Linked DNA regions of Homo sapiens. The protein of the gene in region 1 purifies or fractionates together with the protein of each later gene. This does not show direct contact. Each region holds a gene or a part of one and is shown in the gene's direction. Other genes may lie near its edges. The genes, in order: GPR161, USP12, DNAAF8, UBE2Q1, GNB4, ATP2B2 and RTN4.

Region 1 (4,674 bases):
CCTGAATGCACAGTAAGTTCTGAGCTTATGAGCTCAGAAAAAAGAAAAATCTTTGTGATAAATAATGCATTTGATAATGAGCAGCAGGAGAAAAAAAGTGTTTTCTGTTGAAGAGTTCAAAATGAAATAGAGTAAGTATGGGAAAAGGTTGCTCAGTATGAAGGACATCTTTCGCATCATGGATGGGTATGGAGCCACAACAGCCGTAACTGTTTATTTTTTATTCTCATTCTCACCATGCCAGTCTGTGGCATATATTTTCAGACCTTTCGTGAATACCAATTTTCAAAAGGGTTTAGTTCTCAGATTCTATGTCACTGGATGATTTACTTACATGACCTCATTTAACCTTTTCAACTCTACAGATAGGAAAGTATGAGTATCCCCATTTTATATATGAATAAGCTGAGAGGAAGGTTAACTCACTCCCTCAGGCTCATAGAGCTTAGCCGACATCTGAGTCAGTGTAAATTAAATAAATATCAGGGATTTCAAAATAAGTGTCTAAAATACTATTAAGAACAGAAAGCTTTAAGCTCCTTCAAGTGTCTGGCTTGCCGCGTGACCTAGACTCTTAAGTGGAGCGTCAGCTTCCAGTTTTTGACCAAATAAAGCATTTATCCCATAGGAATATTAAGGCACCCATTTACTTTTTTCTCCCCATTATCCCATTTGTCCCCAGAGCAATGTGGGTGTTTGGCAGGTGCCAGACAGTAAATTACTGTTCTAAATTGTGCCTCAGTGGCCCAATAATATTAAGGAAGCATCTCCCACAGTGTCAATCTGTAGACAAGGGAATAATTAATGTATTTATCAAAGCAGATGGATTTCAGAGGAATGTGAATCCTGCTCTAAGCACAGCATCAGGGTTTGTTTTTTTTTTTCTGGAGTTTAGTGAACTGGGCTTTGTAACTTCTTACCTGATTATTTTGCTGCCCTGTTTGTCCTTCCTTCTTTCCCTTTTTAGCAGTTCTACTCTGTGCTTCAACTTTTCATCCCCTTATTAAGACTGCTGCATAGAAAACGTAGGAGTCTGGAGACAGGCAGGCAAAGTGGGGAGTGAGGAAGGGAAAACAAACATTCTGAGAAGGAACTGTTCCGTCCCCCGAGCTGACAGCGCCCGCTCTTTGTTTTGTGATGACTGCTCCCTGGCCTTTTGGTTCCGAGGGAGTGCAGGGCAGCAGTGTGAAGACCTGTTTACGTCCACTCCCCACTCCCCGGGGCTGGCTTCGGGACGAATTCACTGTGGTATTAACAGAGCCCGGGACAGAGCCTGGCAGAAGGCAGATGGATGCTCGTGCCCGTCGGCTGGATGAATGAAAGGTGAGCAGCAAAGGCGATACCAGGATCGTCCACGGCGGGACTGGAGGAGGAGAATGGGACTGTGCGGAGCCTGCGGGAAGAATCTGAAAGTGTCTGTGTGATGGAGAGAGACATGGAAAAGGCGACGTCCCAGCGGCTGGAACTGGGGCGGAGGAACGGGAACAGGGAAGGCCTGAGTTAGGCACCACAAAGGTTTTCAGGAGAAAAGTGGGGCGAGCCGAGAGGGTAAGGGCGAGACAAAGAGCAGCAGCCGAGGCTGTTCGTGGGAAGAAATGGGAAAGAAGCAGCCGGGAGGGCGGGCGGACGGACGCGAAGGAAGGGGCGCGGGTGGGGAGGGGCGCCGGGAGCTGGGCGGGGCGGGGCAGTGCGGGGCGCGGGGAGGCGGCTCGGGGCTCCGGGGGCCGGAGGGGCCCGGCCGGGCGTGGGGGGGGCGGGGCGGGGCGCGGGCGCCGCAAAGTTACTTGGCCTGCGCCCGCCCGGGTCCGCGTGCTGGTGGCTGGCCCGCGGGAGGAGCGAAGCGGGGCTCGGTGGGCTGAAACCCGAAACCTCCAGTCCCGGAGCGCGGCGGGGAGGAAGGAAGCGGCGGCGGCGGTGGCCGAGGCGGGGAGGCGGCTGGGCCGGGGCCTGAGCTGCCGCGGCGGCCGCTCCTCGGTGAGCACCCGGCGTGGGGCGCGGGCGCGGGCCCGGGCGGAGAGGGCGGTCCGGATGGAGCCAGGCTAAACTCATTGTGCGAGGCTGAGGGCTCAGGGCGCGGGCCGGGAAGGGTCCCCGCCCCCACGGCGCTCCCTTTCTCCCCGCGCCCCTCTCGGAGGTCAGGGCTGTCCTCCGCCCGCACTGCGCCTTGCTTTGGAGAGCTGGAGCTCTTTGTGGGAAGATGTTGGGGGCGCGCCCCTCCCCTGCGGCCTGGGGCTTCTGAGAGGCCCACCCCATTCTGCTGGGTGCAGCCCGCCCCGTTTCTCCGGCGCCGCCCGAAGCCCCTAAACAGTCCGCTGGATGGGAGGGCGTAGGTGCGTGCCCGGGACTCTGCCGATGCGGGCCGCGCCCCCTGGGGCCAAGAGACTCCACGTCCCGCTCAGGGCAAAGGGTGTGGGGAGAAGCGGTCACGCCCCTCGGCTGGAATCCGTGAGGACCAGGTGAGCAGCCTTCTCCCAGCCGGGACTCAGGGCGCTGTCTCCCCGAGCCTGGGCGGGCGGCGGGTGGCGCGCCCAGAAGTGGCCCGGCGCCGCCGGATGGGCGGCTCTGCCCCTCAGATCTGCGGGAGGGAGATTCGGCTGGTTCTTGGAAAGGGGAGAACTCGACCAGCCCTCGGCGCCTTCTGGGCCAAGCTTAACCCCCGTGCAACCTTTGGACAAAGGCATATGGGATGAGAACGTCTGTTGGGTAAGTGGGGTGTGTCCTGTGCTTCCCGGAGGTCTGCTCACCAGTAACCACATAGCTGCGCATTGGCATCGCTTTATATCACATCTTGGAGGCTATTTTTGCTTGTTATTGTACTTTCATCCCTTTTGCAAAGTGCTTTCATAGAGCAGGTCATTTGATCCACCTCCCGGTGAAGCCGTGAGGAGGTGTGTGGTTTTGGAGGGAAAGAACCTCAGTTCCTTGATTGTCCAATGGAGACACCGATAACCTCCGGTGAGCCTGTCTCAGCGTCCTAGGGGCTGGGGGAGGATGGCCATCCTTGTGGCTCCTCCGTGGAGCCAGGCGTGGATTCAGCCTGGCTTCTTCTCCCCTAGTGACCTGGACCTCCAGATGAGTTCTGGAGAGCTACTGCTTCGGGGAATAGGCGGTTTTCCCTTATAATCTATTTTACTGCAGCCACTGGGAGCAAGTGAAGAGAGGCATTTTTCAGGCCCTCAGGGCAGAAAGAGGAGGTGGGAGGGACCTCAGGTCATAGAGACAGAGGCTCTTCAACTGTAACTGGAATGCATGGCACCCATTTCTGTTACTTCTTTCAGAGCACCTCTCTTCCGGTCCTCCTCCACACCCGTCTTATTTTATACTTGTCAGGTGCTTACAAGCACTTTCATGTACACTTTTTCATTCACACAACAACCTTGTGAAGCTCTACTAGCCCATTTGATAGGTGAGGAAACTGAGGCTCAGGAGAGATGAAGCATTCTTGCCCAGCTAGGTAAGCAGCCCAGATTGAACTCAGATCTTTTGCCTTGGTAGTGCTTTTCACGTGGTTTCCTGATGGCACACAGGTGAGTTCTTTAACTCAGGGCTTCTCCCTGCCCTGTAGCTCCACTGCCATAACATCAAGAATAGAGACCCCTCATTAAGAGGCCCGCTTGACATTTTGGAACTAATCCAAGGCCGCAACGATATCCGAACCGTTCTCTTTGTGTTGCAGCCTGGTGCACTGTGCGTCCTCTGAGAGGTGAAGGAGCACTGTGTGGTCAGAGGGCTGCGAGCTCTCTGTTTGGGTTCCGAGGAAGACAGAATGGGCTGAACTGGAACTGACCTAAATGTCAGCAAGAGGAGGTACAGTTCTGTGGTGTAAACTCCACTGCCAGCAGGGACCAGTCAGGAAGCCTGAGTGCAGGAGGCGGGTGGACAGGAGGGCTGGGTGGGAGCTGTGTGCTGCTAAGCCTGTCTCCAGTAAGGGGGCAGCTGCAGGTGCGGTGGGGCTCCAGCACATGGTTGCCTGATCTTAGTTTTGGGGGAAACTGTAAATTTTTACGGAAAACAAGCTTCATATATTTTTAAAGATAGCAACTGATTCAAAACATTTTTTTTAATGTGCGTGCAGTTTAACCAAATTATGTGTGCAGGCTGCTTGCGTCTTCTGTGTGAGACCTTGGGAAGCACTGACTGTCATTCTGAGATGCAGTAAAGCATGACAGCAGGGGAGAAATGGTGTCTTCTTGCTGTTTTTCTATAAGAACAAAAAACATCAACAGAACTAGAGATAGCTATCAGTGCTACCTGGAGTTTGGAGGAGGGATTGACTTTATGACTCCATACTTCATTCATTCACCCAGTACTCGTCTATGACTCTGTTTCTACACCAAGAGAAAAGGCTTACAACTAGTTTTAATCTATTTCCTTGCACATTTTATGTGCTCAGCAGGGGAGAGGATAGCATTCATGGCAAATATGTTCAGGGAGTGCTGGAGCATAAAGGAAGGAATTTGCAGTTGGCCAGGGGTAAAGCATGAGGAGGTATATTTCAATTTTATTTTAGTTTGTGTTTGTTTTATACTCAAGCAATGGGTGAGAGAACACTGTGTTAAGAGCACTATCTGAAGTCAGACAGCCTACCTCCCAGCCCTGCCCCTTATAAACTTGTGACCTTAGGTAAATAATGTAAAGCATTCATGGAATATAGTAATTTTTCAAAACTAAGAG
Region 2 (4,092 bases), on another chromosome or scaffold:
GATATTTTACAAGAAGAGAGAAAGCAGGAAAAACAAAATGGTCGTTTACCTAATGGTAATATTGATAATGAAAATAATAACAGCACACCAGACCCAACGTGGGTTCATGAGATTTTTCAGGGAACATTAACTAATGAAACCAGATGTCTTACTTGTGAAACTGTAAGTATATCATACAATTTTGTATAGAGAAAAATTGAATTACTATGTTAAAGGTTGTTCTTTGAGAAAGACAGAATGGAAGATGAACTTGAAAGTTGTAATTCTTAGGTATAGGAGTTAAAGATGTATTTTTCAGTTAAAAGGAATCTGTCTGTATTCTTAATGTAATGTTGCTTATTGACAATGAATACCTGAGGTGATAGAAAGATACTTACTGTAGCTTGAACTGTTTGATTTTCTTTCAGTTTAGGAGGCCATAGAACCATGTTGTGGAAATTATGTCTTATGACATAATCTCATAGGATCATACAGATCAGGGAGGCATATTAATTCGTTTTTCCTTTTTCTACGATTACCTTTAGTATCCATTGTTGGGATAAAAACTAAAGCATACAGTGTACCCTCAAGGAGGGGAAAAAATCCCACTTGCTGGACACTTTGTAAAGATGAAGCTTGAAAATTGTTACACCCAGGCTGGAGTGCAGTGGCCCAATCTCAGCTCACTGTAGCCTCGACTTCCTGGGCTCAAGCAATCCTTCCATCTAAGCCTCATAAGTAGCAAGGACCACGAGCACGTGCCACCACACCCAGCTAATTTTTAAATTTTTATTTTTTGTAGAGACAGGGGTCTTACTGTGTTGCTCAGGCTGGTCTTGAACTCCTGGGCTCAAGCAGTCTTTCCACCTTGGCCTCTCAAAGTTCTGGGATTACAGGTGTGAGCCATTATGCCCGGCCAGTCATGTTCTTTATAGCATTTTCCCTATTCAGTACAGAATCCAATTTAGAGGGGGACATTGCATTTAGTTGTTTCTTTAGCCTTCTTTAACCTGAAACATTTACATGGTCTTTTTTTTTTTGAGAATATGCCTCCCTCACCTTTTTAAAATCAGATGTTCTCATATTTAGTTTCTCTGATGTTTCTTCCTAACTAGATGCAGGTTATGCATTCATGGCTAATAATAATATATCATTCATGTTGTGTTTTTCTCGGGGCATCACGTCTGTAGGCACACAATATCCATCTGCCTCTCATTGGTGAAATTAATTTTTGATCACCCAGTCAAGGTGGTGGTGTTTCTCCATTTGATTTATTTATTTGGAGACAGGTTCTTGCTCTGTCGCCCAGGCTTTAGTGCAGTGACACTGTTATAGATCATTATAGCCCCAAGACTCCTGGGCTCAAGTGATCCTCCTGCCTCAGCCTTCTGAGTAACTAGGACTACAGTGCATGCCATCACCCCCAGCTAGTTTTTAAACTTTTTTGAGACAGAGTCTTGCTGTGTTACCCAGGCTGGTCTTGAACTCCTGCCCTCAAGTAACCCACCTGCCTCAGCCTCCCAGAGTGTTGGGATTACAGACATGATCCACCGTGCTGGGCCAGTTTCTCCACTTTATGATGACTTTTTTTTTTTTTTTTAAATCCCCTTGCAATTAGTAGGCAGTCTGTGGGGAGACACAAATACCTCCCTCCTCATCAAAATCTCACCCAAGATTTAGCATGCATTTATGATTTTGCCTGATCTCATCTTTACTGTGACAGTTGTGCTGCTAGTTTTTAATAACATTGGAAAATAGGGTCCACAAGCAAGAAAGCTAAGAGTCCTGTAAAGTCTCCATAGTTTTGCCTTTTCCAGAATATTGTGTAGTTGAAATCATATAGTATGCAGCCTGTTTGGATTAGCTTCTTCCACTTAGCAATATGCATTTAAGGTTCTTCCATGTCTTTTTAAGGCTTGATAACTTATTTCCTTTATTTTTGGCTGAGCAACATTTCCACTGTAAGGATGTGCTGCAGTTTTTAAAGTTCATTCACTTACTGAAGGACGTCTTGGTTGCTTCCAAGTTTTGCCAATTATGAATAAAGCTGCTATAAACATTTGTGTGCAGGTTTTTGTGTGGATGTGAGTTTTTACTTCCTTTGTGTAAATATCAAGGAGCAGGATCACTGGATTGTATGGTAAGAGTATACTTAGTTTGATAAGAAACCAACATTCTGTCTTCCACAGTGGCTGTACGATTTTTCCTTCTTACCAGCAGTGAATGAGAGTTCTTGTTTCTCCACATCCTTGCTGACATTTGGTGTTGTCAGTTGGATTTTGGCCATTCTAATAAGTGTGTAGTGTTATCTCATGTTAATTTGCAAGGCCCTAATGACATATGATGTTGATCATCTTTTTGTCTGCTTATTTATCATCTATATCTCTTTAGTGATGTGTCCAGATCTTTTGTCCATTTTTTAATCAGGCTGTTTTTCTTTGAGTATTGTCGAATTTTAAGTGGGTTTTTTTTTTCGGGTATAATTTTGGCTACTAGTTCATAATCAGGTGGGTCTTTGGCAAATATTTTCTCCCAGTCCGTGACTTGTTTTTCATTCTTTTAACACTGTTTTTGGCAGAGTGGAAGTTTTTTTTTTTTGAGATGGAGTTTCGCTCTCGTTGCCCAGGCTGGAGCGCAGTGGCTCACCGCAACCTCTGCCTCCTGGGTTCAAGTGGTTCTCTTGTGTCAGCCTCCCTAGTAGCCAGGATTACAGGCACGCGCCACCACGCCCGGCTAATTTTGTAATTTTAATAGAGACAGGGTTTCTCCATGTTGGTCAGGCTGGTCTTGAACTCCCGACCTCAAGTGATCCACCCACCTTGGCCTCCTAAAGTGCTGGAATTACAGGCGTGAGCCACCGGGCCTGGCTGGCAGAGCAGAAGTTTTTAATGTTTTAATTATCAGTTTTTAATTTTAATAAAGTCCAACTTTTTCTTTCATGCATTATACTTTTGGTGTTGTATCTAAAAAGTCATCCATAAACTAAAGGTCCCTTAGAATTTCTCCTATGTTATCTAGGAATTATATAGTTTTTCATTTTATATTTAAGTCTATGATCCTTTTTGAGTTAATTTCTGTATAAGGTATTAGAAAGTTTATTCTGGGTTAATTTTTTTGCATGTGGATGTCCATCTGCTCCAGCATCATTTGTTTAAAAGACAATTCTTTCTCTGTTGAATTGCCTTTGCTCCTTTGTCAAAGATGAGTTGACTCTTATTTGTGTGAGTGTATTTCTGGTCACTGTCTTCTGTCCTGTTGGTCCGTATATCTGTTCTTTCCCCACTACCACACTGTCTTGATTACCGTAGCTTTAGAGTAAGTCTTAAAGTCAGGTAGTCTCAGTCCTCTGACTTTGTTCTTCTTCAATATTTTGTTGGCTATTCTGGGTCTTTTGCCTCTCCATGTAAACTTTAGAATCAAGTTCGTCGATATCCACAAAATAACTTGCTGGGATTTTGATAAGGATTTTGCTGAACCTATAGATGAAGTTGGGAAAAAAATGATATCTTGACAAAGTTGAGTCTTCTTATCTAAGTACATGCACTGTCTCCCCTTATTTACCACTTTTTTTGCTATCTTTCATTGGAGTTTGGTAGTTCTTCCTCATATCAATACCATGCGTGTTTTGTTAGATTTATATTTAAGTATTCATTTTGGGGGGTGCTAAGCACCAACTATGCCAGGTAGAAGATGGTAGAAGATGAGTAAGACATAAGCCTCTGATCACAAGATACTCCTATGGTAATGAAGACTGGCAAAGCAGTGTTCAGGCAGTTCCAGTACAGTGTGTTATCGTATGTGTATGCACAGGATGCCATGCCAGCCAGAGAATAGTAGACCTAACCCAGGTGGGAGTGGGAAGGATTTGGACAGGTAAAGGACCAGCTTCCTGGAGGAGCTCATGCTTGTATTTTAGAAATGCAATTGGTAATGTCTCAGGTGGTAGGAAGCTGGTGTCTATAACACCCTTTTCTGGTGTTCTCTATGAGGGTTCCTTTTCAGTCTCATTCCTTGGCTTCTCTTTTTCCATTCTTTAAATGTGGGTGTTCCCCAGGGTTTCATTGTCGGTTGCTTCTCACTCTGAATTGGGAGGATCATGATCATGTTCCATTT
Region 3 (3,272 bases), on another chromosome or scaffold:
CTGACAGTGAGGAGGAGGAGGAGGAAGAGATGGCAGCTCTGGGAGACGCAGAGGGGGCATCTCCTTCCTCCCTGGGGCTACGGTAACCACCCAGGGGCCTCTCGCCACCTGCAGATGTCCCACCTCTGCTTTCTGCAGCAAGCCCTCCACCTGGCACATTTACCGCCTGTGGTGAGGTCTTGCTGCACCCACCGCACAGGGTGAGGGGGACGGCACAGCTTTCATCATCCTGCCCACGTCCACTGGGTCCCAGCAGTGGCAGCAGTGATGGGCTGCCTGAATTGCATTCTTGCTCTGAAATGGGAGCTGGGCTCATCTGCTTTTCTCCTGTTTCAGTAAGGAGGGCTGGGAGGGGCGGCCCCCACGGGGTTGAGTGAATTTGGTCTCATTGTGTCACAGGACCTGTACCGGGAAAAGCCAGCTTCTCCAGCAGCTCAGGGCCTTTCAGAAGGGGACAGCCCAGCCCGAGCTGCCTGCCAGCAAGGGGCCCGCGGGTGGGAGGGCTCAGGCCCCTGAAGACACAGCTGGATCACGAACTGGGAGGAAGCAACACATGAAGCTCTGTGCCAAGGGGCAGAGCGCCCAGGCTCGACTCCCAAGAGGCAGGCCCAGAGCCCTGGGGGATGTTCCTGAGCCAGGGGCAGCCAGGGAGGCCCTGATGCCTCCTCTGGAGCAACTATAGCTGCCTCAGGTAGTGGGATCCCAGGAGTGGGCAGGGGCGGGCTGACTTGCCATGGACCCTGGGCCCCGGTGTCCCCTTGTTGTTCCTGCATTTCCACTAGCAGGGGCATTCCAGAGGCAGGGACCCTCAGACTTTGGACTGTTGCCCACCCTGTTAGAGCTCAGTCACAGGTGCATGAACTTAGAGGAAGGATGCAGATACAAATCTGTATGTAACCTGTGACAACAGCTTTGGGATAAAGGGGCCTGGTCCTCTGAGGGAGATGGGCAGGGACAGCAGGAGGACGGGGTGCTGCTCTCTGCGGGACTCTGAGGCTCTTCATCTTTCTCCAGTTCTGCATTTTTTTAAACAGGCATCTATTATTTCCATCAATAAGGTCTTTTTAAAAACCAAGTAAAACGTATTTAGAGGATTTTAGGGTTGAAAGAGACCTAAGCCTTATTTTCTGGCTTCCTGCATACTTGCTATTTTGGGCACCTAAATTAACACACGACACACACATGCCTACCCACACAGATCTAATACACGTGGTTTTTTCTCTTTTCGAGACGCAGCAGCTGGGACTACAGGTGCACACCACCATGTCCAGCTAATTTTTTTTTTTTTTTTTTTTGTAGAGATGGGGTCTCACGGTGTTGCCCAGGTTGGTCTGGAACTCCTCTCAATCCTCCTGCCTAGGCCTTCCACAGTGCTGGGATTATAGCACTGTGAGCTGCCAGCCTGGCTTTTAATGAACTTTTTGAAAGAGGAGTAACGAGAATTTGCTTTCTCTTTCTCTTCTTTACCTAAGATAGAAAGGCACACATAGATTCTCAAGGCCTTTGACCTTTATGAATCTAGACAGAATACTGGAAACCCCTGGAAATGCTGTCCTGTGTAGAATGGAGCAGCGGCCTCACTTGTTGATCACCAGCAAAAACTGGGGACATCTGCTTGCCCCCTGCCAAGACCCGGCCCCTCCACAGGACAAGCCTGGTCTTCCTGGGTCCTGTTCCTTTGCCAGCACCGTCTTGCAGCCCCGTCTTCACGGGATGCTTTTGTAACTGCTGTGATCAGCCCTGACCTGGGCACCTGTTTGTCTCCCCAACCTTGTCTCCAGGATGTGTCCTGCTGTCTGCCCCGTGGGAAGAGCAGAGAAATCATCACCACCTTGGGCCCCACGGTGCCACGGGCTCAGGCAGCACAGTAGGGCGCCGGGCCTTTGGGACAGTGTCCCAGCTTCCCCTGGGGTTCACCCCTGGCTGCCAGGCCACTGAGGATGGGCAGGGGTCTCTTCTCATCAAGCCTTGTACCAGGCAAAAGACAGGCCCTGCTTGGCCGTGGTCACTGGCCGCCAAGATCAGGGCTACAGATGTCTGCTCTCTGGACCCCACGTGATCTGGCCACTGGGGACCCCCACCCGACCCCACTCCCAATGATGAGGGGCATTTTCATTGCAAGTCAAAGGCAAGACAGGCTTCCATAAAGTCCCAGGAGGTCCCTCCTGTAGGGCACAAGGCCAGGCTGCCTCCCAGCCCCCAGGCCCTCTCCCACCTACAGAGACCCTCCCCTGCCCCCTCCACTCCGGGGCCTGTGCCGCCAGAACCGGGCTCTGCCCCCATACGCTGCCCTCGCAGCCTGGCGGCCTCCGCTGTGGCTGCCTAGCTGTCAAGAGCAAAGGCTTTTTTTTTCTTCAACCCCATTTTCTTCCATTTCTCCCACCTTTTTAATGCCAGTAACCTCACTGAGAATGTTTTACAGTGATGGAAAATAAACTCTGTTCCAAGTTCAACTCTGAATTACTGTGTCTGTCAAGGCAAGGGGAGTGAGGTAGGAAGTCAGACCTGCGTCCAAAGCTGGCTCTGCCACCTGGGCAAGGTTTTCACGCTCCCAGTGCCCAGTTCCTCCACCCACAGAAGGAGAATCATGGCCGGGCGCGGTGGCTCACGCCTGTAATCCCAGCACTTTGGGAGGCCGAGGTGGGTGGATCACAAGGTCGGGAGTTCAAGACCAGCCTGACCAACATGGAGAAACCCCATCTCTACTAAAAATACAAAAATTAGCCAGGCGTAGTGGTGCGCACCTGTAATCCCAGCTACTCAGGAGGCTGAGGCAGGAGAATCACTTGAACCTGGGAGGTGGAGGTTGTGGTGAGCCAAGATCGTGCCTTGCACTCCAGCCTGGGTAATGAAGTGAGACTGTGTCTCAAAACAAAACAAAAAAAGGAGACTAATGGGAGTCCCCCCTCACTGGACTGCATGAGATAACATCACAGCACACGCAGGCACCTGGGACTCACAGCTCCTACAAAACTCTCCCATCACGTGAGTGCTGAGGATGACGCCCATGAGATGGGGCCAAGCAGCAGGCAGCGACCATGAGATGGGGCCAAGCAGCAGCCAGTGGGAGGCCACAGCCTCGGCAGGGGGAGGGAAGTGGGCAGACCCCAACCACACTCCCCCAGAGGCCGCCACCTCCAGCACAGGCCTGGATATGAGAGAGGGGCCTGGGGGCTCAGGCTGCGCTGGGGAGATGGGTGTCAGCAACGCTGGGTGCTTTGCTAGCTCCTGGAGTGTGGCCTGGCCACATCTAGCTGGGTACCTCATGCCCC
Region 4 (4,092 bases), about 14 Mb from region 1:
ATCCTGTGAAAGGGATCCTGAAAAGTGGACGGTACACAGCTAAACATTTAGGGGATGACCTCTCGGGGGAGTTGCTTACTGAAGCCAGAGGGAGACCCTGCATCGGCCCTGGGATTGGTCCATCAGGAGACTCATTCCCACAGCCACGTGGCCCATAAGGCTTAGAGAACTAGTTATTGGTGTGGGGCCCAAACTAAGAGCTCATCCATGCACTTATCCAGATCGGAGTGGGGAAGGATTTGATGTCTCTGTGCTCCCCTACCTGTAGCTATTGCAGCATCTGAAGAGGATCATCTCCGACCTGTGTAAACTCTATAACCTCCCTCAGCATCCAGATGTGGAGATGCTGGATCAACCCTTGCCAGCAGAGCAGGTGAGCAGCTGAGGAGCCTCGGGCCCTGTTGTGCAGAGTTGCCCCACAGGGTACTCAGTAAATAATTGAGACAAATCAGTAGTTTCTCTCCATCCCCACCGGCTCCCAAAAACATACACGTCTTATGACTCTCACCCTCGTTCTTCTCCAGATGGGAATCTTCTTTTGCTAAATGGGGCACTGGTAGCTTCATCTCTGATATCAAAATTCATTCTCATGGGCAGCATCCCAGATGTTGAAAGGGAGCGGGGGAATTTTTACCATTATCTTAGCAATAACAGTTGGTGGCCACTGGGGACCCAGGCCCCTTGGTGAGAACCAAGAATGCAATATCAGTCTAAAGAAGATCAAGTAAAGGAGGGGTTCTTAGGAGAATTAAACTAGGATTTAGGAGGTGGGTGACAGAGACAGCCATTTTGCTTTTCTTTTATTCTTTGGCAGTGATAGGCGAAAAATAATGGGCTGGTAGCAAAGCCATTCCCTGGGCTGTTGCTTCCACTCAGATCTGGCTGGTGGAGAGACTGGCAGCATTACAGGCAGGCGCACAACTTCCAGACCTGGGGGCTCAGGGGAGTAGGTTGGAGGCTGCATTCTAGCAAGCCACTGGGGCTCTGATCTCCATCTTTCCCTTCCTTGCTGCAGTGCACACAGGAAGACGTGTCTTCAGAAGATGAAGATGAGGAGATGCCTGAGGTAGGCTTGCCCCCTGAGGTGGCATTGGCTGGAAGCTCTTGCAGTCAGCAACATTGGTACCCATATCCAGAACTCCAGTCTAAAACTGGAGAGAGAAAAATATCAAAGGAATAAAGACAGATTTACTGACCTGGAGGAATAGCCAGTGTAGTAGAGGAGACAGGGCACCCATATCCAACCACTGAAGACAGGTGCAGCGCGGTTCAAACCAAATACTGGGTAAGTTAATTTCAAATGGCTTTGGAGTCCAACAAACCTGTGTTTGCATCCTAGCTATCCTAATTGAGGAATTTTATGTAATCTCACTAAGCTACAGTTTTCTTATCTATAAAGTAGGATTATAATACCTACTGCATATGGTTGTCTTGAGATTAAATGAGGTGTTATATATAAAATGCTTCAGATGATACATGATAAATGCTAAACAATCTATCTGATATATTCTCTAAAAACATACAGAATATAAAATCATGGTTAGGAATTTGAGCTTTAGAGCTAGACAGAACTTGACTGAATCTTAGCTCTGCTAAGAGCTGTGACTTTGGGCATGATAATTGACCTCACTAGACTCAGCTTCCGCATCTATAAAATGGATAATGATAGAATAATGAGTGATGGTGGTAAGAATGAAATGAGCTAGTATCTGCGGCACCTAGGACAGAACCTGGCATGTAATAAACACTCAGTAGACATTACCTGCTGGTGTGGTAATTAGGTATGTCCTGCCAGAAATGGGGAGATCACTCTGATTACTTTTATTTCCTAGCATTAGATTAATATCCCAGGTTCTATAACCGTGTAAGGTTCTTGAGACTGGCAAAGGGCTGACGACATGAAATTTACTCCTCCCAGATAGTGGACAGCCCTCTGGGCCACACCCCCAACATCTGGCTGAGGGGCTCAACCCTACATAGGTTCTCCTCCTTCCCTATGCTCAGTGAGCTAGTTGCTTGCTCACTTAGAGCAGGATGAATAAGGGGCTAATTCTGTTCTTGACCTCTTCCATATATCTCTCTGGACATCCTTTCTCATTTCCATCTGGCAGTGCGTGCCTCTGCATACCTGATTCATGCCTTGCATTTGTAGCGAGGAGAGGAGATGTAATGATTCAGGTTTCTCCTTTAGGCTTGGGGCCCTGAGAACTCCCGGGTGCAATAGTCACCTGGTGAAACATGAGCTTTGAGTCACAGGGTCAGGCCCAAGTCATTTCTGCTAGGAATTAGGGAAGAGTTTCTGCTGCCAAGGGAGTTTTAGGAACAGTTGGAGCAGGGTCAGTCCAGGAAACAAGAGGGCTAAGTCCCTGCCTCGATCTCAGCTGCAGCTCTGCTCGTTTCCGAAGTCCTTGCTGTAGCTTGAGAGCTGAAGATTTAGACTGTGGAGGGAATGGGGCTGGAAATTGTTCTAAAAATGGAAAGCACGTTGCGTTTATAAGACTGCTAGATGGACTGCTTCACTTTAACTTTTGGCTCTTCGCCAAATGGGACTGGGAAGGTGATGGTCATTCTCTAACCTGTGTCGGTTTTTTTCCTTTTCTTTTCACTCCCACCCCACACCTCCTCCAGGACACAGAAGACTTAGATCACTATGAAATGAAAGAGGAAGAGCCAGCTGAGGGCAAGAAATCTGAAGATGATGGCATTGGAAAAGAAAACTTGGCCATCCTAGAGAAAATTAAAAAGAACCAGAGGCAAGATTACTTAAATGTACGTGCCTTCTAGAGAGAGGCTGGTGAAGGGGTTGGTGGGAAATGGCTGGGAAGTAGTAGGCCATCGCATCTCAGTATGGAGAGCAGACTCCTTTTTTGTGCCTAATCCTTTCTTAAATCCTGGGCAAGCTGCCAGACTGCCCCTAAGGTCTAACGTGTGTTTATAAACCACACGACCAAGGAATGTTCCTGTCATCCGTCCCTCACAGGGTGCAGTGTCTGGCTCGGTGCAGGCCACTGACCGGCTGATGAAGGAGCTCAGGGATATATACCGATCACAGAGTTTCAAAGGCGGTGAGTTTGCCCCAGAGAGGGGCCTGCACAAGAGTCACCCATAAAGAAGGGTATGGTGGCAAGGGGCCCAAGAGGTTCTGGGGTCCAGGAGTGCTTATGAACTTTTCAGGCCAAGAATGGAGCTCCTCAAGCCAGTGGCTTGGTTGCATGTCCATCTGTGGTGAACCTAGAGCTGTTGATCTTTTTCTCTCAGTCTGGGAAAGGGGTCTGCATTAGAGACCACTCACCACCTGGACCATTCTACTAACACCTGTTTTTTCCCTCCTTCCAGGAAACTATGCAGTCGAACTCGTGAATGACAGTCTGTATGATTGGAATGTCAAACTCCTCAAGTGAGTGGGGACTCTGGGATTGGAGAGGAAGTTGAGGAGGAGTGTGAGTGGGGCTACTGTGGTGGGATCTCCAGGGCAGCCCCATCCAGCATTTTCATTCAGGGTCCCGGAGCGGGTGTGGGCAGTGGTTTCGTGGTCTGCTGCCAGCCAGGGCAGGGGAGCCCTTATGAAGCTCCTGAGGTGGAACCAGGCATCTGAGCCCAGGCTTGTTGCTTCTTAGAGTTGACCAGGACAGCGCTTTGCACAACGATCTCCAGATCCTCAAAGAGAAAGAAGGAGCCGACTTCATTCTACTTAACTTTTCCTTTAAAGTAAGACTTTTCTTTTCCAGTCTCTCCCTCTGGCCTAGGCTGCCCAGTCTGCCTGACAGTCCTGTGGAGGATGCTGGCCTCCCTCCCCTGATTGTCGTCTCTCTCTCTCTCAGGATAACTTTCCCTTTGACCCACCATTTGTCAGGGTTGTGTCTCCAGTCCTCTCTGGAGGGTGAGTGGCTGGCATGCGGAAGAGGGCATCTCCTCTGGCAGAGGGCGGGGAAGAGACTTGGAGATTTTGTCAGGCACAGCTGACTAACCTTTCTCATGCAGGTATGTTCTGGGCGGAGGGGCCATCTGCATGGAACTTCTCACCAAACAGGTGAGCCTGTCTCTCCTCCTTGGCCAGGCCGGCCTGGGCGGGGATTGTCTGAGCTTTACAGC
Region 5 (4,092 bases), on another chromosome or scaffold:
CTTATGAAGTACTTTTTAAAAAGTAATTAAAAGAGGGGCCAGGCGCTGTGGCTTATGCCCGTAATCTCAGTACTTTGGGAGGCTGAGGCAGGCAGATCACTTGAGGCCAGGAGTTTGAGACCACCCTGGCCAACATAATGAAACCCCGTCTCTACTAAAAATGCAAAAAAATTAGCCAGGCGTTGTGGTGCATGCCTGTAATCCCAGCTACTGAGGAGACTGAGGCAGGAGAAGCACTTGAACCCAGGAGGCAGAAGTTGTAGTGAGCTGAGATTGTACCACTGCACTCCAGCCTGGGTGACAGAGCAAGACTCTGTCTCAAAAATAACAAAAAAAAGTAATTAAAAGAAACCAACACATCCTGTTGAATTTAAGAGTATCAAAAGATGGGAGAAAATTCAAGATGAAAACGCAGATTACCTAGATATAAAAGATTAAAAACCAAGCTAACCTCACACTTTTTCACAATAGACACTGCTGAAAGGCTCCTGAACAGTATCTGCCAAGTGTTAAGGGAGAAATACTGTGACCCAATAATTTTAAGTATCAGAGATCATAGTCATGATGTGGGGAGGAAATACACTACATATAATACAGGATAAGAGATTAAGACCAAGAATAATCACTTAAGGCATTACACGTAAATGATTACTGCTATTAAAAGATACAGAATAAACTGAACTATAATGTTGTATGCAAGAAACACACCTAAAACAAAATGACCCAGGAAGGCTAAATGTAACAGTAAGAGAGTGGGTAAGTCATAAACTGGAAGGAAATCTGTAGTAATATTACTATATTACTATTAACCGAAGTAGAATTGGAGCAAAAACTATAAGATGAGAGAAGTTTTATCTTAATGAAAGGGACAGTAGTGATGCTATAACATTGAAATTCATAAAACAAAAGCCATTAAAAATTCAAGGACCCAAAACACCATTGTGTAGGAGACTTTAGTAGACAACTTGGAAATACTGATATCTTAAGAAGGCACGAAATAAGATGCTGAGGATTTGAATAGTGTTATTTAATAATGTTGACTTGAGAGTATATTGTAAATTGCACCATATTTGGGTTTTACCAAATACACAGTATATTACCTTTCTAAAATCTGAAAAATTCTGAATTCTGAAAAAGAACTGTCCCGAGGGGTCCTTATAACCCTATAAGGATTGTGGACCTTTTATCTCCTTGCCATTCGTTCTACAACAGCCACACACACACACATATATATTCTATAAATATTAGTACTTGCTTTAAATGTTTCAACATGACATATGGAGAACCAGAGCCAGTATTTGTTGAATACTTGCTGTGTTCTGAACAATGGGCTGTGTACTTTGCATATGTTATTTAATTCAGTCTTAATCACCACTTTGAAATGGAATCTGAGGCTCAAAATATTTAAGAATCTTTAGTGCCCAACATCGCTCACCTGGTAGGTAGCCAAGTTGGAATATTAATCTAGATTTGTCTATTATTACATTGCCTCCTATGATTGTGCATACATCTGTAGAATAAATGTTTGTTACTTTCCTGTCTAGTTTTTCCCAAATGGATATGCCTTCGCCACTGGCTCTGATGATGCCACTTGCCGGCTCTTTGACCTTCGTGCAGATCAAGAGTTATTATTGTATTCTCATGACAATATCATCTGTGGAATCACTTCTGTAGCCTTCTCAAAAAGTGGGCGTCTCTTGTTGGCTGGTTACGATGACTTTAATTGTAATGTATGGGACACGCTAAAAGGAGATCGTGCAGGTTAGTAAATAAGTCCACATTAGGTTCTGATTTTCAGGAAGCGTGAAGAGGTTCCCATCAGTTGTGTTCTAGGCCTCCATGGACATCTTGGAGTTGTGGAAAGTGGTAACCCGATGGTTCTCATCATGTTCTTTGTTGTTACCTTTTGTTTGTGGTTATAATCCATAAGCCATATTTACACTTTTGCTTTCTGAAGAATCACACTGAGGTCTGTAATATTTTCTTATTTGGTAGACTTCAGAATTAAAGATGGATAGTGAATGTGATTCAGTGTGGTCTTTTAGAAATCACACTTTTCTTATCACCTGACAGGAAACATTGTAACTGCTGGTTTTCTTCCTTCTGAAGCAGATCTTGTATGGGACAGGACATAGACCTGTCGCTTCCCTTAGCCCCATACCCTGAGTCCTCCTCTGCAGCTTCTACAAGATGACAATACACATTAAGCCATACTGGGGACTGTCATTAATAACAAGTCATACAGAGTAATTTTTAGCTATTTTTAAAAATCAAAATTATACTTAAAGGAATCCAGTTGTCCTATATAGCTTGTTACCAAAACACAGCAGTTGCTTCATCCCCAACCCATAGTTTCTGCTCCCCAAAGTAACTACATTTAGTAATTTACCTACCCCTCCTCTCTCCCCGCCCCCTTTGTTTTGTTTTGTTGGGACAGGGTCTCTTTATGTTGCTAAGGTTGGTTTCTTCCCGCCTCAGCCTCTGGAGTAGCTGGGATTACAGGCTTGAATCACCTCACCTGGCTTACTTACATATCTCTAAATAACATGCCTGTATTGCTGTTACTTGTTTAAAAAAATAAAAATTCAGGTGTTATCTGTTGTTGACCTATTATCATGGATGAGAAGGGTTGGGTTTTAAGCTGCTCCTGCCGTAGCCATGTTCTTCCCAACCAGTTTTTCCCATATGATAGATTTTGTTTAGAACCACATTCACTGTTTACATAATTCCGACTTTTTAAAAAGTCATTTGCTGCTGAGCCATGAGATGTGTTATGACTTCTTTTGCCATGCAGCTTTTTTGTATTTTCTAGAGTTAATTTTTTGGTTTATATTCTTAGTTTCTATGTGCTTCTCACTAATGAATCTTCACACTTTATGCCAGTTTTGATGTGTCTCGGAGCGGATCCATTTTCGTTCATTGTGCTGGGTATTTAGTGAGCCTTTTTGATCCGGAAACTCATTACCCTATAGAACAGGGACATTTGGGGGTGGGGGCTTGTTGAATTTTATTTCTTCTCTATTATCATCATTCCCTTTTTCTAGATCTCCCATTATGTTGAAAATGGGCTTCCTGGACTGATCCTTTTGACTTTTTTTGTTTTTTAAGAATTTTTATTTTACTTAACTTTATTTTATTTTATTTTATTTTTTTGAGACGGAGTCTTGCTCTGTTGCCCAGGCTGGAGTGCAGTGGCATGATCTTGGCTCACTGCAGCCTCTGCCTCCCAGGTTCCAGCGATTCTCCTGCCTCAGCCTCCCGAGTAGACTAGCTGGGATTACAAGTGCACACCACCACGCCCAGCTAATTTTTGTATTTTCAGTAGAGGTGGAGTTTCACCATGTTGGTCAGGCTGGTCTCGAACTCCTGACCTCAGGTGATCTGCCCACCTCAGCCTCCCAAAGTGCTGGGATTACAGGCGTGAGCCACTGCGCCCGGCCTGACTTTTTAATTATATTTTTTATTTTCCATCTTTTTTGCTTTATCTTCTGGGAGGAAACCTCACCTCAGGTTTCCACCCTTCTGTTAAGTTTTGGTTTTCATTTTCGCTACCATCTTTTTAACTTAAGAGCTATTATTAGTGAAAGAATTTTTTTTTTAAGTTTCTTCTTCAAGCATCATCTTTTGTGTTTCCAAGTTTTTTTTTTCTTCATTTTTGGGGTTTCCTGTCTTTATTTTTAGAATATTTCCTTAAAAGTGTTAATTCTTATTCATACTTAAGAGCGAGGCACTAAAACCATTTGAAGCTCTGGGCACGTGGCTGGTGTGCTGACTCGGCCTCCATTTACTCTAGGCTGGCCGTTCACTGAGGAAGCTTTGCTGTGTCTGCCTTTCTGCCTTTCTTCCTTTTTCCATCTTCCACTTTCCTCCATGAAGTGTATAAACTGGCTGCCAGTTTGAGGGCTGATTTCAAGAGAAAACCTGAGGGACCACAACATTTAGCTAGTAAACTTTATTCCCCATTTCAGCACAGTTTTATCAATCGCATCTGTGCCTGTTTTCTTCCAGTCAGGAGACCCTGTTTTACCCTTTCCTCTGAGTGAGTCTCTGGCCTTACGCCACAGCGCAGGATGATCTGTCACCTGACTGCAG
Region 6 (4,092 bases), on another chromosome or scaffold:
CAGCTCACCGTCAACGTGGTGGCCGTGATTGTGGCCTTCACAGGCGCCTGCATCACGCAGGTGGGTCCGCAGGAGACCACACCAAAGCCTGGGGGAGGGCGGAGACCCCCCACAGAGGCTCGGGGGCCTTAGGGTACTCCAGGTTGTCCCTGTCAGAACAGCCGGGGATGAGGCACCCATCGATGGAGCACCTGCTGGGGGCCAGGAACTGCATCACAGAGCTCAGGTGCAGGCACTGGCCCCAGGGGAGTCGAGGACATGAGGCTCAGAGAGGTGGCGTGACTTGTTCAAGGTCACCCAGCAAATGGGAGCTGTCAGGCTCACAGCCTGGCCCTCACTGCAGGAGGCAGGAGAGGGAATCCTCAAGAGAAGGCAGGGCCCTTGGCCACCACGAGGGCAGAGGGAGGCAGGGAGGGGCAGGCCAGGGCCCAAGGGGGATCAGGCATCCAGGTGAGGACAAAGAGCCAGTGGGGGCCCTGGGGCCCTGGCTCTGGACTGGAGTGTGGAGTGCCTTAGGAGGTGCTAGGTGGGGATAACTGGAGGGAGTCGGGGATCTTGCTCACTGGGAAGGTCACAGAGGAGTCTGGCCAGATACCACGACTGGGTCTGGAGCAGCCCTATGCACTGAGCCTGGCAGGCAGGCCCCAGATGTCTGCAGACTGACTGCTTCTTCATGCAGCTCCATGAGGTGGGAACTGTGATGATCCTCATTTTACAGAGGCAGAAACTGAGGCTCAGAGGATGGACTGGCCAGGGACCTGCCATTGTTCTTGCAGTCTCCTGATACTCCCCACAGGGGCTGACCAGCCTGGCCAGGGAGGCAAGAATGGGTCTCCCTTAGCCCCAGGGGATCCCCAAGGCCCAACACTCCCAGTAGCCACCTGGGCAGACAAGCCCATGCCCACAGGAGCCCCCAGAGGCCCAGAGTGCAGCACTGCCCCAAGAGCTGTGTGGCGCTGGAACACTGCTCCCCTCTGTTGCTTCCTGCGCTGGGGGAATATAGGTGGCAGCTCCGGCTACCCCAGCCCTGAGAATCGGAGCCTTGGGAGGGTGGCTGGGGGCTTCCTTTTGCTCAGAAGGGCCCTCTTTCCTGGCCTGTGGATGAGACACTCCCTCTAGTGGCAGCTTGAGGAACACTCCTGCGGCCCCAGCAACTTGGAAACCAGAAGGTCTTGATGCCAGATAGGGAAACTGAGATTCTGAGACCACTATCAGTTTGCCTGAGGTCTTTGATTGAGTTGGTGGCGAGGCCATGCAGCATTGATAAGAAGACGGGCACACTTGACCCTGAGGTATATGGAATTAGAGAAAGCCCGGGGTGGGGAGGACGGGGGCAAGGGGAGCGAGGCTGAGGCAAGGAGGAGGTGAGAGAGAAAGCCAGGAGCAGGGGCTGTGATGAAACCTGGGAGGTGATGAGTGGAAGGGATGCAGGTATATGGGGCTTTGGGAGAGAACAGAGGTGGGAAGAGCATCGGGTTTGGGCTGTTGAGCTTACAGGGTCTGGGGGCTTCCTGGAGGAGGTGTTCCACAGGCCACTAGACGGATGTAACTAAAGCCACAGGACGAGGAGGAGAATGGGGCTGAGGCAGGAACACAGATTTAAAAGGAAGGGAGGACGACGACCAGGAGAGTGGGGTCAGGATTACAAGTGGGAGTGCAGGGGCGAGGTCAGTGACATCTGGCCGAGAAGAGGTCCTGCAACTCGTGGCACAGAAGGTGCTGGTGACGTGGGCGGAGGGCATTCTGGGAACGTGGAGGGGCCAAAGTCTGGCTGCTGTGGACAAGATACGTGGGGGTGTGAGGAAGGATGGGGACAGAAGAACCAGCTCCTCTCAGCCAAAGAGACAGGTCTGAAAGGGTCCCTCCCAGAACCTGGACAGTGGTGACCTAAAAGTGGTGAGGTCCTTGACAGTTTTAGTTGCTTTTGCTATTCCTCATTTGCCATATTTCCTACCTTGAAATGTATTAATTTTTGAGTCATAGATACGCACAATAATTTTTTAAGGTAAGGCGGGATAAGAGGGGAGGAGACATTGGGGGGGTGGGGGACGGGCACTGTTTGTAGGATAGAAAGCCCGAGGGGGAGGAGGCAGTGGGGGGAGGAGGTAGGAGCCCATGCCGGAGGCGGTGGGAATGGTCTTGGCCTCAGCCAGGAGAGACCCCCTCCTCGGGGGCTGGAGGGGAGAGGGGAAGATGGTGAGATGCAGCTGAATTTACCAGAAGGCAGGGAGCTGGTGGCCATTGGGCCTGGGGGGACTCACTTATCTCCTGGCAGGGAAGATGTGGCTGAGGTGGGCAGGTCTGCACTGTTCTCCAGAGAAGGCATCAGAGAACAACTCCATGCCTGCTGGGGAGCCAAGGGGCAGGTCGGACTCCAGCCTCCAGCAGGAGCCTGCGGACACTACACCATGAGCCCGCCCAGCACTTCACAGCAGCAGGTGGGCGCACAGGTGACAGCCCTCTCCTGCCCGTCCCCAGGACTCCCCTCTGAAGGCCGTGCAGATGCTCTGGGTGAACCTCATCATGGACACGTTTGCCTCGCTGGCACTGGCCACTGAGCCGCCCACGGAGACCCTGCTGCTGAGGAAGCCGTACGGCCGCAACAAGCCGCTCATCTCCAGGACCATGATGAAGAACATCCTGGGCCATGCTGTCTACCAGCTTGCCCTCATCTTCACCCTGCTCTTTGTTGGTGAGCGCCTCGCCCACCCACGCCTCTCCCAGGCGGGGTCATCACCTTCTGGGTGCACCATGGCTCTCACCCAGCATTCTCGAGTCACAACCCCCTCCTGTTTTGCTAATGGGGAAATTGAGGCCCAGGGAGGTCAAGTAAGTTGCCCAAGGTCACACCAGCAAGTCTTGAACAGGGCCTGGCCCTGTCCCAGCTCTGGCTAACCCTAAAGCCATCAGTGGCTTTCTCCACTGGTGACAGCTCCTGGCAACAAGTACAGACCGTGCAAGGCCCTGACCGGGTGCTGAAGCACTGCATGGCAGCCCCAGAGGCACCTGAGGCTGGGAGGGGAGTGACTCACCCCTTCTCTGACCCATTCCAGCACCTTATCCTGGCCCCGTGGAAGGGACCCTCAGCAAGGCTTCCTGGGGCAGGGCATACACGCTCACACCACCACCGACTCTCACAATGCTTCCACTTGGGCTGCCTGGTTGGGTCTTCCACTCAGTGAGGCAAGCACATTTGCCTCCACCCCACATTACAAACGAGGGCACCAAGGCTCAGAGAGGTGAGGTGACTTGCCCAAGGGCACACAGCCAGTCTGAGGAAGAGTCTGGGCACAGAACCAGGTCTGGCTGGGGCCAAGACTGGCCTGGTTTCCACAGATGCTTCGGAGGCAATCCCAACAAAGCCTATCCCCAGGTCACAGATGGGGAAACAGAGGCCCAGAGAGGGGAAGGGTCTGGCCCGCAGTCCCACATGGAATCAGGGCCAGTTCTCTCCTTACAGGAGCCTCCCGGAGCTGGCCTTTCACTTGTCCTCAAAGCCCAGAGTGTGATGGAGGTGGGCATGGATCCATTCCTCAAAGGCAGTTAGTTGCCTTTTATAAATTTTGAAAGTAGTGTGTTGTCAGGACACATTTTACTGTTGTAAAACTTATCATGAAAAAGCTTAGAGGAAGCCACTTATATGCAGAACTAGAAGAGACTCAGAGGAGGTGGAGGGGTTGGAGAGGAGAGGAGAGCGGGGGTCCTGGTCGGCTTGCTGGCTTGACCACTTGAGCAGCACCTACCCTGGGTAGTCTTGGGACATCTCACACCCAGAAAACTCCACAAGCCTCCTGGCACCACTTTACTCAGCTGTGCAAAAGGACACAGGACTTGGCCAGGTGCAGTGGCTCATGCCTGTAATCCCAGCACTTTGGGAGGCCGAGGCGGGTGGATCACTTGAGGTCAGGAATTCGAGACCAGCATGGCCAACATGGAGAAACCCCATCTCTACTAAAAATACAAAAATTAGCCGGGCGTGATGGTGCGCACCTGTAATCCCAGCTACTTGAGAGGCTAAAGCAGGAGAATCACTTGAACCCAGGAGGCGGGTGTTGCAGTGAGCTGAGATCACGCCACTGTCCTCCAGCCTGG
Region 7 (4,092 bases), on another chromosome or scaffold:
ACCACCATGCTGGCTATTTTTAAAATTTTTTAAAAAAACTTTTATATTTATGTATTTATATTTTGGAGACAGGGTCTTGCTCTTTCACCCAGGCTAAAGTATAGTGGTGCAGTCTTGGCTCACTGCAGCCTCATCTTCTGGGCTCAAGTGATCCTGCCACCTCAGCCTCCCAACTAGCTGGGACCACAGGCACGTACCACCACGCCCGGCTAATTTTTGTGTTTTTCGTGCAGATAGGGTTTCGCCATGTTGCCCAGGCTGGGCTCAAATTCCTGAGGTCAAGCAGTCTTCTCGAAGTGCTGGGTTTACAGGCGTGAGCCACCACACCCAGCCTAAATATATTTTTATTTTTATTTTTATTTTATTTTATTTTTGAGGTGGAGTCTTGCTCTGTAGCCCAGGCTGGAGTGCAGTGGCGCAATCTTGGCTCACTGCAACCTCCACCTCCTAGGTTCCAGCAATTCTCCTGCCTCAGCCTCCCGAGTAGCTGGGACCACAGGCATGTGCCACCACACCTGGCTAATTTTTGTATTCTTAGTAGAGACGGGGTTTCACCATGTTGGCCAGGCTGGTCTTGAACTCCTGACCTCAGGTGACCCACCTGCCTCGGTGTCCCACAATTCTGGGATTACAGGTGTGAGCCACTGCTCCCAGCCTTATTTTTATTTTTTTAAAGATGGGGTCTTACTATGTTGGCCAGGTTGGTCTTGAACTCCTGGGCTCAAGCAGTTCTCCCACCTCGACTTCTGAAAGTGTTGAAATTACAGGTGTGAGCCACTGTGCCCCGCCATTTATTTTCATAATATACCTTCAAGCAACTTATTAGAATAACTTGATTCAAAGCCTCAATTTAATGGTTCCTTTTTAAGGTACTTTGCTAGCCCAGGATAAAAGTATAAACTGAATGGCTATTTCTTGATTCTTCCCTGGAACCCTTAAATAAATAGAAGTAAATGTTGCAGATATACTATACTTATGGTACATTCTTTGAGACTTTTTGTTCCTGTTTCTAAAGGGATCAGGTTCTTCTGAGGATGACAGCACTAGGGATGGGAACTGTAATGGTAAAACCATAGTTCTCAGTAGTGTTTGAATGAATGTGACCTTTGTGGATAGCTAGTGCAGGACATAGGTATGCAAAATGATGAGACCCAGCTTTACTGATGCTAAGATTTTCTCAGACTAATGCCATCATCATCCTTTTTAACCCCAAAGGAGGAGTTGATAATTTCATATTTAAGCTATTGATATTTATGTTTCTTGGAATGATGATCATTGATTTTTAAGTTGCTTTCATCACGTGTTTCCATAATATTCTGTTCTTACCTCTTCATAGTATATATCATTCTATATAAGGTAATGGTATGGTTACTGATTTCTTTCCTCCACCAGACAGTGTACTCCTTGAGGAAAGGTGCTGTGACCTTTTTCTTTGAGGAAAAGGACTGTATGCATTGTGTCTGCATTGCAGTGCCTTAGATGTGATAGGCACTCAGTTTGTTGAATGAGAAAGATGCTGATCTTCATATTCTGTATAGTTCTAGAATTACTATAATATCTTCTCTCAATAAAAATCCCAAATCTTACGAAAGCATTTATTTATTTATGTATACAAGGTAACAATTCCAAACAGTACTACAAGAATACACAGAAAAGTAACTCTTTCTACCTGTTACCCAGATTTCCACAAATTGTCTTCTGTAGATCCACCCTCTGTTAGTAGTTTCTTGAGTATCTGTTTAGAGATAATCTGTGGATAAATATTTATTTATACATGTATATCCTTTTCACTTTATTTTCCACAAAAATAGATGCAGAGGACTCTGGGGATGTACCATATTTTATTTAATCAGTCCCTTATTGATGGTTATTTAGGTTGATACTTAGTTTTTTCTCTTACAAATACTATTTCTGTGAACACTCTTGTATACACTTCTTTGGGAATACATGCCATTATATATGTTGTAGGATAAATCTGTGCAAGTAGAATTACTGCTTCAAAGGATATTTGCATTTAAAATGTTGGTAGCTAATGCCAAAGTGTCATTCAAAGAATGGTTCCAACCTTTATTCCCACCAACCTGTTAAGGTACCTTTTCCCTTATATCTTTACCAACACAGTATATTAGTGAACTAATACATTGTTTAGCAAATTGTTCTTTTAAATTTGAGTCATTTTTCATAGGCTTAGGTGTCAAATTTTTTCTGATCACAGCTTTTGCCTATTCTTTTGGGTTTTTGGTCTCATGTATGTAGATTCACTTAATCTGCATTGTAAGGAAACTAGCCTTTTGTCATATGTCTTGAAAACTTTTTATTGATTTGTTATTTGTATTTTGACCATATGGTATGTTTTTCTGTTTAGAAATTTTTATGTAGTCAGATTTATCATTTTCTTTTATGACTTTGAGTCATAAAAGTGAAAAAAGTCATTGAGTTTTATGTAATCCTTAGAAAATCCTTCTTGAGGATCATAAAAATTTTCCCCCATGTTTACTCCTAGTAAGTACTTTTATACTTTTTATGATTTCATTTTAACATTTAATTATTTGATTTATTTGCAGTTTGTTTTGTTCTAGAGAGTGAAGTAGTGAAATAATTTTATATTTCAAGATTATTTCCCATTTGTTCCAATACCTTTTATTTTGAATTATCCTTCTTAACCACTTTGAAGTACCATTTTTGTCATATTCTTGTAGTATGGGTGAAATATTTCCTCTGCTTTTCCATTTATCTGTCAGTTCACACAGAAGTATCAGACTGTTGTGCTATAATTTTTAAATACTAGCTAAACGGCTTTTCCATAAATATTTTTCTTGGCTATCTTATGTGTGTATAATTTTCTACTTCATCTTAAAATTTTTTTTATCTTGTCCCCTCTCCCTCTGTTGGAGTTTTAGTAGGTTGCATTACATTTATGGATTAATTTTGGGGAGAATTGAAATACATTCGGTGTTGATATTGTGTATTTTTCCATAAACACGTGGTTTTTATTAACATGTATTTAAAAAAAATTTAGCATATAATTAGGTGAACTAGAGACTTTTAAAAATAAATATTCTAGCCTCCTTGTAACATACTGAATTATACAGGTATTTGGCTCTCTCTTTTCAATTGATAATTGACTGAGAAAGAAAGCTAAGTCTTCCTGCTTTTTCATTTCCAAAAAAAAAAAAAAATTGTGTTGAGAAAGAAAGAAATATTCTCTGTACTCTTGTATTAGGAGCTATAGCTGCCAAATACTGGATTTTTTTTTTTTAAAGCAGTCTCTTTACATAGGTGGCCCTCTACTTTTCAAAAATAATTATTTCTTTAATAGCTTGTTTTTCTCATTGATGGAATTGTTACCACAGATACAGAAAGTTTATAAAGTTTTGTTGTTCAAGAGTTTGGAGTTGCTGCTTATATTGGTGGTCTCTTGGAAGTTCAATATTAAGAAAAAAATTAATATATTCCTTTTTTTTTTTAACTAGGCCTAGGGCTGAGTAAGAGGACAAGAAAGATGAATAGAGGTTGTACTTATGAGAGGTATAGGTAGCAGATGAAGGAAAAAATACAGGCCCTTAGTTGTAAAGAATTTTCTGCTCTTAAAACCAGAGGAGTTTTGTGATTGGCCTTACAGGACATATTTACAGATCTGTGAACTGCTTTTGTGGAAAGAGAGAAGCTTACTTAAGGATTCCAGGTCTGCCTACGTGTTCTTTCTCCCCAACTTTGTAGGTTGATTTATAAACTCGCCTAAATGGAAGGTGCCATTATTGAGTTCATTTATCTCAGTGCCCTGACAACCGTAGATGGAGGTGACCTAAAAGTGTTACAACTTTTTTTTTTTAAGCTACTAGAGGTTTTGATCTCAGAAAATAAGGGAATTTACTTTTATTTATTCTCTTCTGAAGAGGTTACCAAAGATGCTTGTATCTGTGTTATAAATCCCTTTCATAGTCTAGAACTTCAGTCTCAATTCATCAACATCATTGTTAAATTATGGAAAGTTTTATTTTATCAAATTCTGATATTTTAATTTTGTATAAAAACCAAATTTTATATAAAATAACTTGATAAAAACTTTGTTAGATGCTTTTGCTTGCATAG

Evidence for each region.
Region 2: the proteins of GPR161 (region 1) and USP12 purify together in Homo sapiens (affinity purification with mass spectrometry; 2 studies listed by BioGRID and IntAct, with this or other methods). This does not show direct contact.
Region 3: the proteins of GPR161 (region 1) and DNAAF8 purify together in Homo sapiens (affinity purification with mass spectrometry; one large-scale study listed by BioGRID and IntAct). This does not show direct contact.
Region 4: the proteins of GPR161 (region 1) and UBE2Q1 purify together in Homo sapiens (affinity purification with mass spectrometry; one large-scale study listed by BioGRID and IntAct). This does not show direct contact.
Region 5: the proteins of GPR161 (region 1) and GNB4 purify together in Homo sapiens (affinity purification with mass spectrometry; one large-scale study listed by BioGRID and IntAct). This does not show direct contact.
Region 6: the proteins of GPR161 (region 1) and ATP2B2 purify together in Homo sapiens (affinity purification with mass spectrometry; 2 studies listed by BioGRID and IntAct, with this or other methods). This does not show direct contact.
Region 7: the proteins of GPR161 (region 1) and RTN4 purify together in Homo sapiens (affinity purification with mass spectrometry; 2 studies listed by BioGRID and IntAct, with this or other methods). This does not show direct contact.

The regions. Positions count from the first base shown.
Region 1 is NC_000001.11:168,134,039-168,138,712, reverse strand, and holds the start of GPR161 (G-protein coupled receptor 161), read left to right. Parts: upstream 1-1,782; 5' UTR 1,783-1,974; exon of another isoform or gene 1,975-2,316; coding exon of another isoform or gene 2,317-2,456; exon of another isoform or gene 2,457-2,703; intron 2,704-3,676; exon of another isoform or gene 3,677-3,791; coding exon of another isoform or gene 3,792-3,807; intron 3,808-4,674. UniProt on the Homo sapiens protein: Key negative regulator of Shh signaling, which promotes the processing of GLI3 into GLI3R during neural tube development.
Region 2 is NC_000013.11:27,091,671-27,095,762, reverse strand, and holds part of USP12 (ubiquitin carboxyl-terminal hydrolase 12), read left to right. Parts: coding exon 1-162; intron 163-4,092. UniProt on the Homo sapiens protein: Deubiquitinating enzyme that plays various roles in the regulation of the immune response and inflammation.
Region 3 is NC_000016.10:4,746,944-4,750,215, forward strand, and holds the end of DNAAF8 (dynein axonemal assembly factor 8), read left to right. Parts: coding exon 1-82; intron 83-399; coding exon 400-682; 3' UTR 683-691; intron 692-1,295; exon of another isoform or gene 1,296-1,781; 3' UTR 1,782-2,453; downstream 2,454-3,272. UniProt on the Homo sapiens protein: In cyliated cells, dynein axonemal particle-specific protein required for deployment of ODA to the axoneme. Interacts with outer dynein arm (ODA) subunits.
Region 4 is NC_000001.11:154,551,709-154,555,800, reverse strand, and holds part of UBE2Q1 (ubiquitin-conjugating enzyme E2 Q1), read left to right. Parts: intron 1-268; coding exon 269-373; intron 374-772; exon of another isoform or gene 773-1,015; coding exon 1,016-1,066; exon of another isoform or gene 1,067-1,151; intron 1,152-2,128; exon of another isoform or gene 2,129-2,192; intron 2,193-2,628; coding exon 2,629-2,769; intron 2,770-2,980; coding exon 2,981-3,065; intron 3,066-3,336; coding exon 3,337-3,397; intron 3,398-3,617; coding exon 3,618-3,708; intron 3,709-3,821; coding exon 3,822-3,880; intron 3,881-3,981; coding exon 3,982-4,030; intron 4,031-4,092. UniProt on the Homo sapiens protein: Catalyzes the covalent attachment of ubiquitin to other proteins. May be involved in hormonal homeostasis in females. Involved in regulation of B4GALT1 cell surface expression, B4GALT1-mediated cell adhesion to laminin and embryoid body formation.
Region 5 is NC_000003.12:179,402,859-179,406,950, reverse strand, and holds part of GNB4 (guanine nucleotide-binding protein subunit beta-4), read left to right. Parts: intron 1-1,544; coding exon 1,545-1,761; intron 1,762-4,092. UniProt on the Homo sapiens protein: Guanine nucleotide-binding proteins (G proteins) are involved as a modulator or transducer in various transmembrane signaling systems.
Region 6 is NC_000003.12:10,341,352-10,345,443, reverse strand, and holds part of ATP2B2 (plasma membrane calcium-transporting ATPase 2), read left to right. Parts: coding exon 1-60; intron 61-2,478; coding exon 2,479-2,692; intron 2,693-4,092. UniProt on the Homo sapiens protein: ATP-driven Ca(2+) ion pump involved in the maintenance of basal intracellular Ca(2+) levels in specialized cells of cerebellar circuit and vestibular and cochlear systems.
Region 7 is NC_000002.12:55,040,168-55,044,259, reverse strand, and holds part of RTN4 (reticulon-4), read left to right. Parts: intron 1-4,092. UniProt on the Homo sapiens protein: Required to induce the formation and stabilization of endoplasmic reticulum (ER) tubules. They regulate membrane morphogenesis in the ER by promoting tubular ER production.